Homo sapiens: one gene and its partners. Changing the gene in region 3 together with the main gene of any one other region gives a genetic interaction. Each region holds a gene or a part of one and is shown on either strand. Other genes may lie near its edges.

What was found.
Region 1: changes in KIF14 (region 3) and TCOF1 together harm fitness more than expected from each alone (negative genetic interaction), as found in Homo sapiens cells (one large-scale study listed by BioGRID).
Region 2: changes in KIF14 (region 3) and NCAPD2 together harm fitness more than expected from each alone (negative genetic interaction), as found in Homo sapiens cells (one large-scale study listed by BioGRID).

What each region holds. Positions count from the first base shown.
Region 1 is NC_000005.10:150,367,689-150,371,339, forward strand, and holds part of TCOF1 (treacle protein), read left to right. Parts: intron 1-155; coding exon 156-229; intron 230-1,027; coding exon 1,028-1,214; intron 1,215-1,840; coding exon 1,841-1,914; intron 1,915-3,651.
Region 2 is NC_000012.12:6,514,510-6,518,160, forward strand, and holds part of NCAPD2 (condensin complex subunit 1), read left to right. Parts: coding exon 1-78; intron 79-263; coding exon 264-411; intron 412-2,318; coding exon 2,319-2,516; intron 2,517-2,855; coding exon 2,856-2,990; intron 2,991-3,086; coding exon 3,087-3,174; intron 3,175-3,269; coding exon 3,270-3,450; intron 3,451-3,651. UniProt on the Homo sapiens protein: Regulatory subunit of the condensin complex, a complex required for conversion of interphase chromatin into mitotic-like condense chromosomes.
Region 3 is NC_000001.11:200,596,632-200,600,282, forward strand, and holds part of KIF14 (kinesin-like protein KIF14), read right to left. Parts: intron 3,483-3,651; coding exon 3,419-3,482; intron 1,791-3,418; coding exon 1,606-1,790; intron 1-1,605. UniProt on the Homo sapiens protein: Microtubule motor protein that binds to microtubules with high affinity through each tubulin heterodimer and has an ATPase activity. Plays a role in many processes like cell division, cytokinesis and also in cell proliferation and apoptosis.

The DNA of each region.
Region 1 (3,651 bases), on a different chromosome or scaffold from region 3:
AGCTCATTCCTGCAAGTCTGGGCTCAGCCTCAGATCCTCATGCCAGCACCAGGCAGCCAATACCAATAGAATTGTTAGGTGAGATGAAACCTGTTTGCCATTCATAGATGAGAAAAGCTCATCTGGCTCCTTTAGCAGATGTTTGTTTCTTGCAGCCCCAAGACTAGCATCTACCAACTCCTCAGTCCTGGGGGCGGACTTGCCATCAAGCATGAAAGAAAAAGCCAAGGTGAGTGGGACTGCCTTCCAAGCTATTGCCTATGGGATTTAAGGTGCCTGGTAGGGGACAGTCTTACATGTCAGAGAAGGATAGGGTTGTGAGTAATTGCCCCACCTGGATTCAGAGCTCAACCTGTGTCACCAGTTGTGGGATCTTAGTCCCTTCACCTCTCTGGGCCTCAGTTTACTTTTCTATAAAGATAAGGATGATGCCTGCTGCAGTGGGCCACTGGGCACATTCTACACCTGGGGTAGGCGATTTCTTTCCTCTTTCATGCCTGCGTTCACCCGTTCACTCAACAGATCTTGACTAATACCTGTTATGTTCCAGGCACTGTGCTAGGTGTGGAGGCACCGTAGTGATCAAGACATCTGTGGTTCTGAAACTCTAAAAGCATTTTCCAAACTGGAAACTGCTCAAAAAACAAGGTGTCATTTTCTAATAATCCAGAAAGCAGAGTTAGATACATACATGTATAAAGAATTGTGCCTCTGCGATTGCCTGGAGCATTAGCAACAATGTCTCAAAGTAATTATGAAGTAATGATAAGATCAACAACAAACTGCTACTTACCACTTAGTAAATAACTACCATGTCCCAAGAACTGGGATTCTGTTTTCTCAACACCTCTGGTGAGAGGAGGTGCTGTTTTTAACCTCACTTTAAAGATTGGGAAACAGATTGAAGGGGTAGTTTACCCAAACTCACACAGCTAAGAAGTGGTAAGATTGGGTTCAGATGCAAGTGGCCTGTGCTCTTAGTTCACCATGCCATACCAGATGTGTCTGTCACTCTTGTTCTCTGTAGGCAGAGACAGAGAAAGCTGGCAAGACTGGGAATTCCATGCCACACCCTGCCACTGGGAAGACGGTGGCCAACCTTCTTTCTGGGAAGTCTCCCAGGAAGTCAGCAGAGCCCTCAGCAAATACTACGTTGGTCTCAGAAACTGAGGAGGAGGGCAGCGTCCCGGCCTTTGGAGCTGCTGCCAAGCCTGGTAAGAAGTCCCCACCTCTAGGAACCTAGTCCCCAGAACTTGGGCTGGTGAGGCAGGCCTAGGCATTGCTTTAAGTTCTGGGACATTTCTGGAATCAAAAGTTTGTCTCCAGGACAGCCAGGTTCCTGCATCTTAGGACTTTTCTCATCACCTAGACGAGGGAGGGTCAGCTTACAGGGACCTGGCCTCAGGCTGAACAGCCCACCTGGTGGTTGGAGCATTTTCTGCTTTATGACTCCCTGGTGAGTTACAGGGACAACTGGCAGCTCAGAGACTAAACTGAAAGGCCTGATTTGCCTCTGTTTCCTATGTAGAGTAGACATCTGTCTGGCCTGCATCAGTGGATATGATGGTGGATGGAGGTTCTGTAGACTGTCAGGTGCTGGTGCATATTTGTTGGGTCCCCTCACAGCCCTTCCCAGGGCCTCAGAGATGTGTGGGAACATAGGGATGGTGATGGTACCCACCTCAGAAGGGGGCTTCACAGCTCAGTGCATGTGAGGCACACGAGGGGTGAGCGCTCAGCACCTGGCTTTGATGAGCAGCTGGTTTGTGGGGAGGTGCTGGGGAGGGGCAGGTGAGGCTGGAAAGGGAGTCCCTCAGTCCCCTCCGTGTCCGATCCTCAGGGATGGTGTCAGCGGGCCAGGCCGACAGCTCCAGCGAGGACACCTCCAGCTCCAGTGATGAGACAGACGTGGAGGTAATTGCCACCCATCCCTAGGAGTTGCCCTCTCCCAGCCTCTAACCCTTCCAGGAACCTGTCTGGGGCTTCAGACACCAGTGGGCCCAGATGAGTTCAGCAACTGTGGTAGGGTGACCAGGAGCTGGAAAGGCTGCAGCCGGAGAGGGGCAGGGAGAGGAGTCTGGTGCTGCTTGCTGCACTCTGAGTGTGAGATCAGCCCTGGGGGCAGGAGAGGGACACCCTCCTGCCTGTGAGACTAGACAAGCCTTCCTGGGAGAGGTGCCCTGGAGTAGGGCCTCAAAGCACAGTGGGCTTCACTGGGAAGGGATGTGGAGGAGGCAGGGCATTCCAGACAGGAAATGGGGCAAGAACAGGGCCCAGAGGCAACAGTGTGGCTGTCGTGGTCTGGCTAGGGCTGCGGCTGCTGAGAGGGTTCTGGGCCAACTGGTGAATGCCAGGCCTAGACACTTGGCTAGAGTTGGGCAGGACTCTTGGGTTTGTGAACTTTGACCTGGAAAAGGTCTCCACAGGTTACTTTTTATTGTGTACCTACTAAGTGGCAGACCTGGGGAATATAGTGATGAGCAGGACAGGCAGAGTTCCTGCTGCCATGGGGCAAGGGAGCGTCCCTCAGATATTTAATTGGTGATGGCTGCTATGAAGTGGAAATGTAGAGGGCCACGCAGGGCAGGAACCTGACGTTGATGAGTAGGCGTAAGCAGAAGGAATGGCATGTGCAGAGAAGGCGGCAAAGAGAGTTTGGTGCTTTTAAAGAACATTGATCTTTTTTTAAGACAGTCTCACTGTGTCACCCAAGCTGGAGTGCAGTAGCGCGATCTTGGCTAGCTGCAACTTCCACCTCCCGGGTTCAAGCGATTGTCGTGCCTCAGCCTCCCAAGTAGCTGGGATTACAGGTGCACGCCACCACGCCTGGCTAATTTTTGTATTTTTTGTGGAGACAGGGTTTCACCATGTTGGCCAGGCTAGTCTCGAACTCCTGACCTCAAGTGGTCCATGTGCCTTGGCCTCCCAAAGTGCTGGGATTACAGGCATGAGCCGCCACGCCTGGCCAAAACCTTGATCTTTAAATGAGAGGGAGAAACCAGGCACGGTGGCTCGCACCTGTAAGTGCAGCACTCTGGGAGGCCAAGGCAGGAGGATCATTTGAGGCCAGAAGTTTGAACCCAGCCTGAGCAACATAGTGAAACCCTGTCTCTACAAGATGTTATTTTTTAAAAAAACAAATAAATTATGGGGAAAGTGACACAAGATGAAGTCCTAGGTAGACAGGGGCCAGATCTTCTGTCTGACCTTGAGGACCACCATAAGGAATTTGGGTTTTATTCTAGGGGCTGTGAGAAGCCATGCCAGCAAGGAGAGATGGCCTGATTTGCATTTAATAAGATTGCTGGCTGCAGCCTGGGTTGGAGGGCAGTGCAGAATAAAAGCAGTAAGACCATGTAGGAGACTATTGGAGTAATACTGATACTGGCATAAGAGGCTGGGGGCTGGGAGACCAAGGTGTCCACAGTTGGAAAGATGTTTTCAAGGGAAAACCAGCACAAGTCAGGGATGAACTGATCTGGTGCCCAGGGAACTTCTCACTTTACTGTGCTGCCTGGCCCAGTAACCCTGTGAAGGTTGAAAGCTCACCCCCATCTACCCCAGGCCTTACCAAGGGCTGCCCTCCACCTTCCGTCCTCACCCTTGCGCCCTAGATACCACCAGCTGTAAGGACATCCCTGGCTTCTGTCA
Region 2 (3,651 bases), on a different chromosome or scaffold from region 3:
GGCACCTGTACTGGTTGCAGCCGTGAGTCTATGGGCAACTGACTATGGAATGAAGAGCATAGTGGGAGAGATTGTAAGGTGACTCTTCCTTCTCGAAGTTTCTCATGCTTATTTTCCTTGGGGAGGGAATAAAGAAAGATTGGAAATACATTATCTGTGCAACAGTAGATTCCTTCAGATATTAGATACCTGTCTTACCTTCCCTTACTGGGAACTGAATAATTGATCTATGTTGCTATGGCTGTGTTTTCTTCCCTGTGTAGAGAGATTGGACAAAAGTGTCCCCAAGAGCTGAGTCGAGACCCTTCAGGGACAAAGGGCTTTGCAGCATTCCTGACAGAACTAGCAGAACGTGTCCCAGCTATCCTGATGTCCAGCATGTGCATTTTGCTAGATCACCTGGATGGAGAAGTAGGTGGTCCACTAGGGGTCACTGAGCTTTTTCTGGGGATTTTAAGTCCAGTGTTGAAAGGCTGTTTCTTAACAGAACAAGAAAGTAGCTTTGACAAGTTGTCTAGATTTATCATTGTGACATTTCCTTTCTGTAGAGAAGCAGGTCAAGTTTGTTGAATAAGGAGCTCTTTATTAATCTGTTAATCTTTCAATTCACATTGCTTTTATCCAGTTCTGGTAAGGGAGATGACATTTCTGCAGCTTAAGTCTAGTAAGAGCAACTCAGCTTTGATTTTTTTTTTTTCTTGGAGGTAGGATCTGGCTCTGTCACCCATGCTGGAGCATGATCATAGCTCATTGCAGCCTCGATCTCCTGGGCTCAAGCAATCCTCCCACCTCAGCCTCCCAAGTAGCTGGGACTTCAGGCACATACTACCATGCCTGGCTAATTTTTTTAGTTTTTGTAGAGGTGGGGTCTTGCCATATTGCCCAGGCTAGTCTCAAACTCCTGGTCTCAAGCAACCCTCCTGCCTCAGCCTCCCAAAGTGCTGGGATTGCAGGCGCTACCATGCTTAGCCTTCAGCTTTGATTCTGAGTCCCATCTGTTCCTCAGGATAAAGCGTCTTCCCACCAGCTGGCTTGCCTTGCTTCCTCAAACAATGAACTTTCTCAAATCAACCCATGTCATCTCTCTCAATTCTCTTTTATGCCTGAATGCTAACCTGGCTGATTCCCATACTGATGTTGGGCACTCCTAGGTGAATGTCAAGGACAAAGACAGTCCACTTGTTCATCTCATTTACTTTAACTTTTTGTGCAAGACCCTATTCTCTGGTTCTTAGCCTGGCAAAACCTTAACCCTGCTCTCCACTAGATTATGTATTGGACTTGCTGGCACTCTTAAGGCTGATTTCCATGTTTCTGTCTCATTTTCTGTCAGTAAAGCATCTGAAGGAGAGTGGGAGGGAAAGGAGGGGATATTTATTAGTAAGGATTAAAGACTTTGAGGCCAGGTGTGGTGGCTCACGCCTGTAATCCCAGCACTTTGGGAGGCTGAGGTGAGTGGATCACTTGAGGTCAAGAGTTTAAGACTAGCCTGGCCAACATGGTGAAATCCCATCTCTACTAAAAATACAAAAAAAAATTAGCTGGGTGTGGTGGCGCGCACCTGTAATCCTAGCTACTCGGGAGGCTGAAGTGGGAGGGTTGCTTGAACCTGGGAAATGGAGGTTACAGTGAGCCGAGATCGCACCACTGCACTCCAACCTGGGTGACAAAACGAGACTCTGTCTCAAAAAAAAAACCAAAAAAAACCACACAGACGGGCGCGGTGGCTCACGCCTATAATCTCAGCACTTTGGGAGGCCGAGGAGGGTGGATCACGAGGTCAGGAGTTTGAGACCAGCCTGGCCAATATGGTGAAATCCTGTCTCTACTAAAAATACAAAAATTAGCTGGGTGTGGTGGCGGGCACCTGTAATCCCAGCTGCTTGGGAGGCTGAGGCAGGAGAATCACTTGAACCCGGGAGTCAGAGGTTGCAGTGAGCCGAGATGGCGCCACAGCACTCCAGCCTGGGCAACAGAGCAAGACTCCGTCTCAAAAACAAACAAACAACCACAATAACAAAGGCTTTGAGACCTCAGCTGAAGGGTAGTTAATAAATGCTTTTCAAATGTGTGTTGGTGAGTGGATGTGATTTTTTTATTCAGCTACTACCATGCTTTCCTGTGTGAGCCCTATGAGGAAAAATTGGTTTTGGCCCTTGTTCTAGCATTCTCTGAGCAACAAGTCCTCTTTGGGATTCAGCTTTCTCCTGTGACCTTGGGAGTGAATACCTAGGCAGTTAATGGAAAAAGTTATGGCCAAGCACAAGCAAGCTTCGCCTTGACTAAAGGTTTGACCCCTCTATGCTTCTCTCTCTTAGAATTACATGATGCGTAATGCTGTGCTGGCAGCCATGGCGGAGATGGTGCTGCAGGTTCTCAGTGGCGATCAACTGGAAGCAGCAGCCCGAGACACCAGAGACCAGTTCTTGGATACTTTACAAGCCCATGGCCATGATGTCAACTCCTTTGTGCGGAGCCGTGTTTTGCAGCTCTTCACCCGAATTGTCCAGCAGAAGGTAACCAACTTCTATGTGGCAAAAACATATGGTACCTCTCCATATACCAGTGTAAAGAGGAATCCAGTGTTGAAGATAAATATCTGCCCCAAAGAGGTCTAGAATTCACATTTTTATTATCAGTAGTAAAAGTCTTCCTCTACCAAGGACGAGGATATCTGGCTCCCTTTAAGGACTGTAATGTGTCTTACCACTACAAGGAGTACTCCTAATCTATATTCTGTAGAAAGGGTTTTTAGAGTGAGTGGGTAGCTCAGTTTAGAGTATACTTAAAGATCATCTTGAACAAAATGGATGATGTGGGACTTGAGCAGATTCTTCTCTTCCTACCCTACACAGGCTCTCCCCCTGACACGTTTCCAGGCAGTGGTGGCTTTAGCTGTGGGACGTCTGGCAGACAAGTCAGTGCTAGTATGTAAAAATGCCATCCAGCTGCTGGCCAGTTTTCTAGCCAATAATCCTTTCTCCTGCAAGGTAAGTAGACTTGGTCCACCAAAAGAGAAGGAATTAAATGGAAACAGGGATGAAATTATGTCATTTACTGACCCTGCTATTCATTTTACCTGATAGCTTAGTGATGCTGACCTTGCCGGACCACTGCAGAAGGAGACCCAGAAATTACAAGAGATGAGGGCCCAGAGGCGAACTGCAGCAGCTTGTAAGTAGTTACTGCCTTGGAGTCCTAATGCCAGACAGGCTTCTCCTTGCAGTCAGAAACTCTAGTGAAAGAGACTAAGTGACACTCTCATTTAGCTGCAGTGCTGGACCCAGAGGAGGAGTGGGAAGCCATGCTGCCAGAGTTGAAGTCTACCCTGCAGCAGCTTCTACAGCTTCCCCAGGGAGAGGAGGAGATTCCTGAGCAAATTGCCAATACAGAGACAACTGAAGATGTGAAAGGACGCATCTATCAACTGCTTGCCAAAGCTAGTTACAAGTAGGCAAAAGAATGGGATATTCTTCGTGATCTGTTTATGTTTAGAGTTAACCTTTGAGAAACTTACATAATGTGTCTTTTAAATTAACTGCACACAGATATGCTGCCACCAGGTGATGGTAGATGTTTTCATGTAGTAATGGTCTGACCATAGGCCTAGTCCACAATTAAGCATGTGTTTCTACTTTATAAATGTTTAAA
Region 3 (3,651 bases):
TTGGCTCACTGTAGCTTCCACCTCCCAGGTTCAAGTGATTCTTATGCCTCAGCCTCCCAAGTAGCTGAGACTATAGGTGCCCACCACCATGCCGGGCTAATTTTTGTATTTTCAGTAGAGATGAGGTTTCACCATGTTGGCCAGGCTGATGTTGAACTCCTGGTCTCAAGTAATCTGCCGCCTCAGCCTCCCAAACTGTTAGGATTATAGGCGTGAGCCACCGCACCTGGCCAGAACACTCTATCTCTCTCTCTCTCTTTTTTTTTTTTTTTTTTTTTTTTTGAGACATAGTCTCGCTCTGTCACTCAGGCTGAAGTACAGTGGCATGATGATCTCGGCACACTGCAACATCCACCTCCTAGGTTCAAGCGATTCTCATGCCTCAGCCTCCTGAGTAGCTGGGATTACAGGCAGGTACCACCACGCCCAGAAAATTTTTTGTATTTTTAGTAGAGACAGGGTTTCACCATGTTGCCCAGGCTGGACTCAAACTCCTGAGCCCACACACCTGTGCTAGGATTACAGGCATAAGCCACCACGCCCAGCCAGAACATTCTTTCTTTAAGACATAAAAACTGACAATCATAAAGGAAAAGACTGATGCCAGGTACTACAATAAAATTAAGAACTTCAATCAATCAAAGGCACCAGAGAGAGTAAAAAGATGTTACACGTTAGAAAAAAAGATATTTATACCAAAAAGCTCACGAAAGATTGGCAACTCCTACAAATTATTAAGAAATAAGCAAATCAGTTGAAAAATCAACAAAAGATATGAAGAGGCAAGTTACAATAGTAAACAAAAATGGCCAATCAACACATGAAAAGATGTTCAACCTTATTATTAATCAAAGAAATGTAAAATGAATCCATAATGATATACTATTTAGTGTTCATCAGATTGGCATAAAGTCTGACAGTACTAAGTATTGGCAACGATGTGGAGTAACAGGTATTCTCAAGGCCAATGGGAGTAAAAATTCATTTTGGAAAATAATTTGAAATTAGCTACTAAAGTTGAATATGCACATATTCTACAACCTAGTATCTCTACTCTCAGACATACAATTTAAAAGCACTTCCTAAACTTTATAAGAGATAAACTCATACAATGGAATACTTCATAGCAGTGAAAATAAAACAGGAACCAATGTACACAAATCTTGGAAACACAATGCAGAGTCAAAAAAGTTTACATACGCTATCATTCCAACAATATATACAAGTATTCCATTCATATGAACAAAATTCACATAAAGTAACATTTTTAAATTGGTCAATCCAACCAAAAATTCTGTTATGTAAGATAGATAGTTTACTTGCATGTGCATCATTATAATTGCAAGAAAATAAATTATTCTTCAATCAACAGATCAAGTATGCCAAAACAAAAACAGAGAGAGCATTACACTGTACTTTATATTGAGAGTAACTGACCTATCATCCTTATAACACACTCAGAATGTATGTTTTTCCTGACTAAACAATGGGTTTGAAGAATTCTACCAAACGATCAGTATCAACGAATATGCCATATGAAGGAAACCACATGTTATCAAGATATAGAACAGGTGCCTTTTCTTTTTTTTTAGAGGATTAACATACCAATGATCATCAGCAATCAGCACCCCAGATAACTGAATATCATGGCTTGAGTTTGGTTTATACTTTCCAACTGTAGTTGTTCCTTCTTTTATCATATATAGCAGCATCTCAGATAGTTGTGGATCTTCATTCAGATTAACAAGGTTTGGTAAATGATTGTCCATTTGAAACATAATTCCTGCTTTCTGGTAGAAGTCAGAAAAAGAAATTAATCTTAATCACAGTATGAAATTGTTAAATTCACCTAAAACAAATGGTCTATATTAAACATTAAAACAATTCTATATGAAGTCTCACTAAATTAAAGGTTATTTATTTATTTTTTTATTTTTATTTTTTTGAGACAGAGTCTCGCTGTGTCACCCAGGCTGGAGTGCAGTGGCACGATCTCGGCTCACTGCAACCTCTGCCTCCTGGGTTCAAACGATTCTCCTGCTTCAGCCTCCCAAGTAGCTGAGACTACAGGCGCATGCCACCACGCCCGGCTAATTTTTGTATTTTTAGTAGAGATAGGGTTTCGTCATGTTGATCAGGCTGGTCTCGAACTCCTGACCTCAGGTGATCCACCCGCCTCAGCCTCCCAAAGTGCTGGAATTACAGGCGTGAGCCACCGTGCCCGGCCATAAAGGTTTTTTAGACTCTCTCCTCCTTCCTTAGAATCTCTCCTTTGTGACCTCCCTACCTTCTTTGTCCTTCACCATCCTCAGTCTACTCATACATCAATCTATCATCACCAAATTGTGTCTTCTTATTGACTGACCGTCTTTAGAATAGATCAGTTTGTTTTGTTGCATCTTCATTGCCTTCACCACAGGCCCCTGTCAACTCACACCAAAACTACTGAAGCAGCCTCTTGATCACCGTCAACAGCTTCTGTTTTCAATCCATCTTATATCCTATGCCAGGTTAATTCTCTCGAAAGGGTGCTCTCAAAATGTAAATTCCCTGGTCACTTTTTAACAGCTTCTCACTTCCTACAGGATAAAACTTAATTTCCTTGGCCTGGAAATCAAGTCCTTCATAAACTAATCATAACATATCTTTCCAATTGTATCTCCTTATGATCTCATATAAACTGCTTCCAGTAAAACTGATCTACGTACCCTTTCTAAAGACAACTCAAACTTTTCTACCTTTACTTTCAGAGAATTTTCTCTTCCAAGAATGTGCTCTTCCTTTTCTCTTCCTATTAAAATCTTACCCAAACTTCAAAGCCCATCTCAAATGCCACCTCTTTTATGAGATTGGATTGGCCATGCGCAAGGAATTTTCCCTTCTTCTCCTGAATTCTTATAGTACTCCCCCACTACCAATCACTTGAAATACTTTTCATTACATTAGGTTCAACCATATGAAACTGCCAGTGTTCAACCATGCTTTACCTACAAAAATGGCAATTGCTTATGGCTCAATCTACTGAAATCACATTGCATTTCAGTCTTCTATTTACGTTTTGTAAATCTCTCTCTGGATCACAAGCTCTCTGAGGGATGAAACTGTGTTTAATCACCTTGGCTTCCCCTGTTCCTGAAAAGCATAGACATTTAATATATATTTGTAGAACCAAAGTAAATATAACAAGATGGTTTATTCATACTTTAACTTTCCAACTAGTTTATGGGCTGGCTCTAAGCAACCAGTCTTGATCTTAACATTTCTTTATATTAATTTTCCTTACGGTATTGCTTTGTACAGAGTCAGTATATAGTAAGTATTTGAAACATTAAATTTACATGCATTGGCATATTGGCAATATTTATTTCTTGGCATATTTCTTTTATTTTCTAATCAGTTTAGAAAGTTGAAATAATACCTGTAACTCTTTTGTTTCTTGAAGTTTTCTTTTTTCAGCTTGTTCAAACTTTTCTTTCCACACTCTTTCCAAAGACAAAGAAAATAACAGAGTTAAAAACATCCAGATGTATAAGATTGAGAGTCAAGAGACAATCAATGAAAATTAGGCAACTACCTAGTAATATTTAAAATATGATAATCTGGGAGTGGGCTGCTCTATTCATAAGGAAGGTCGGAAAAATACTCAGTATC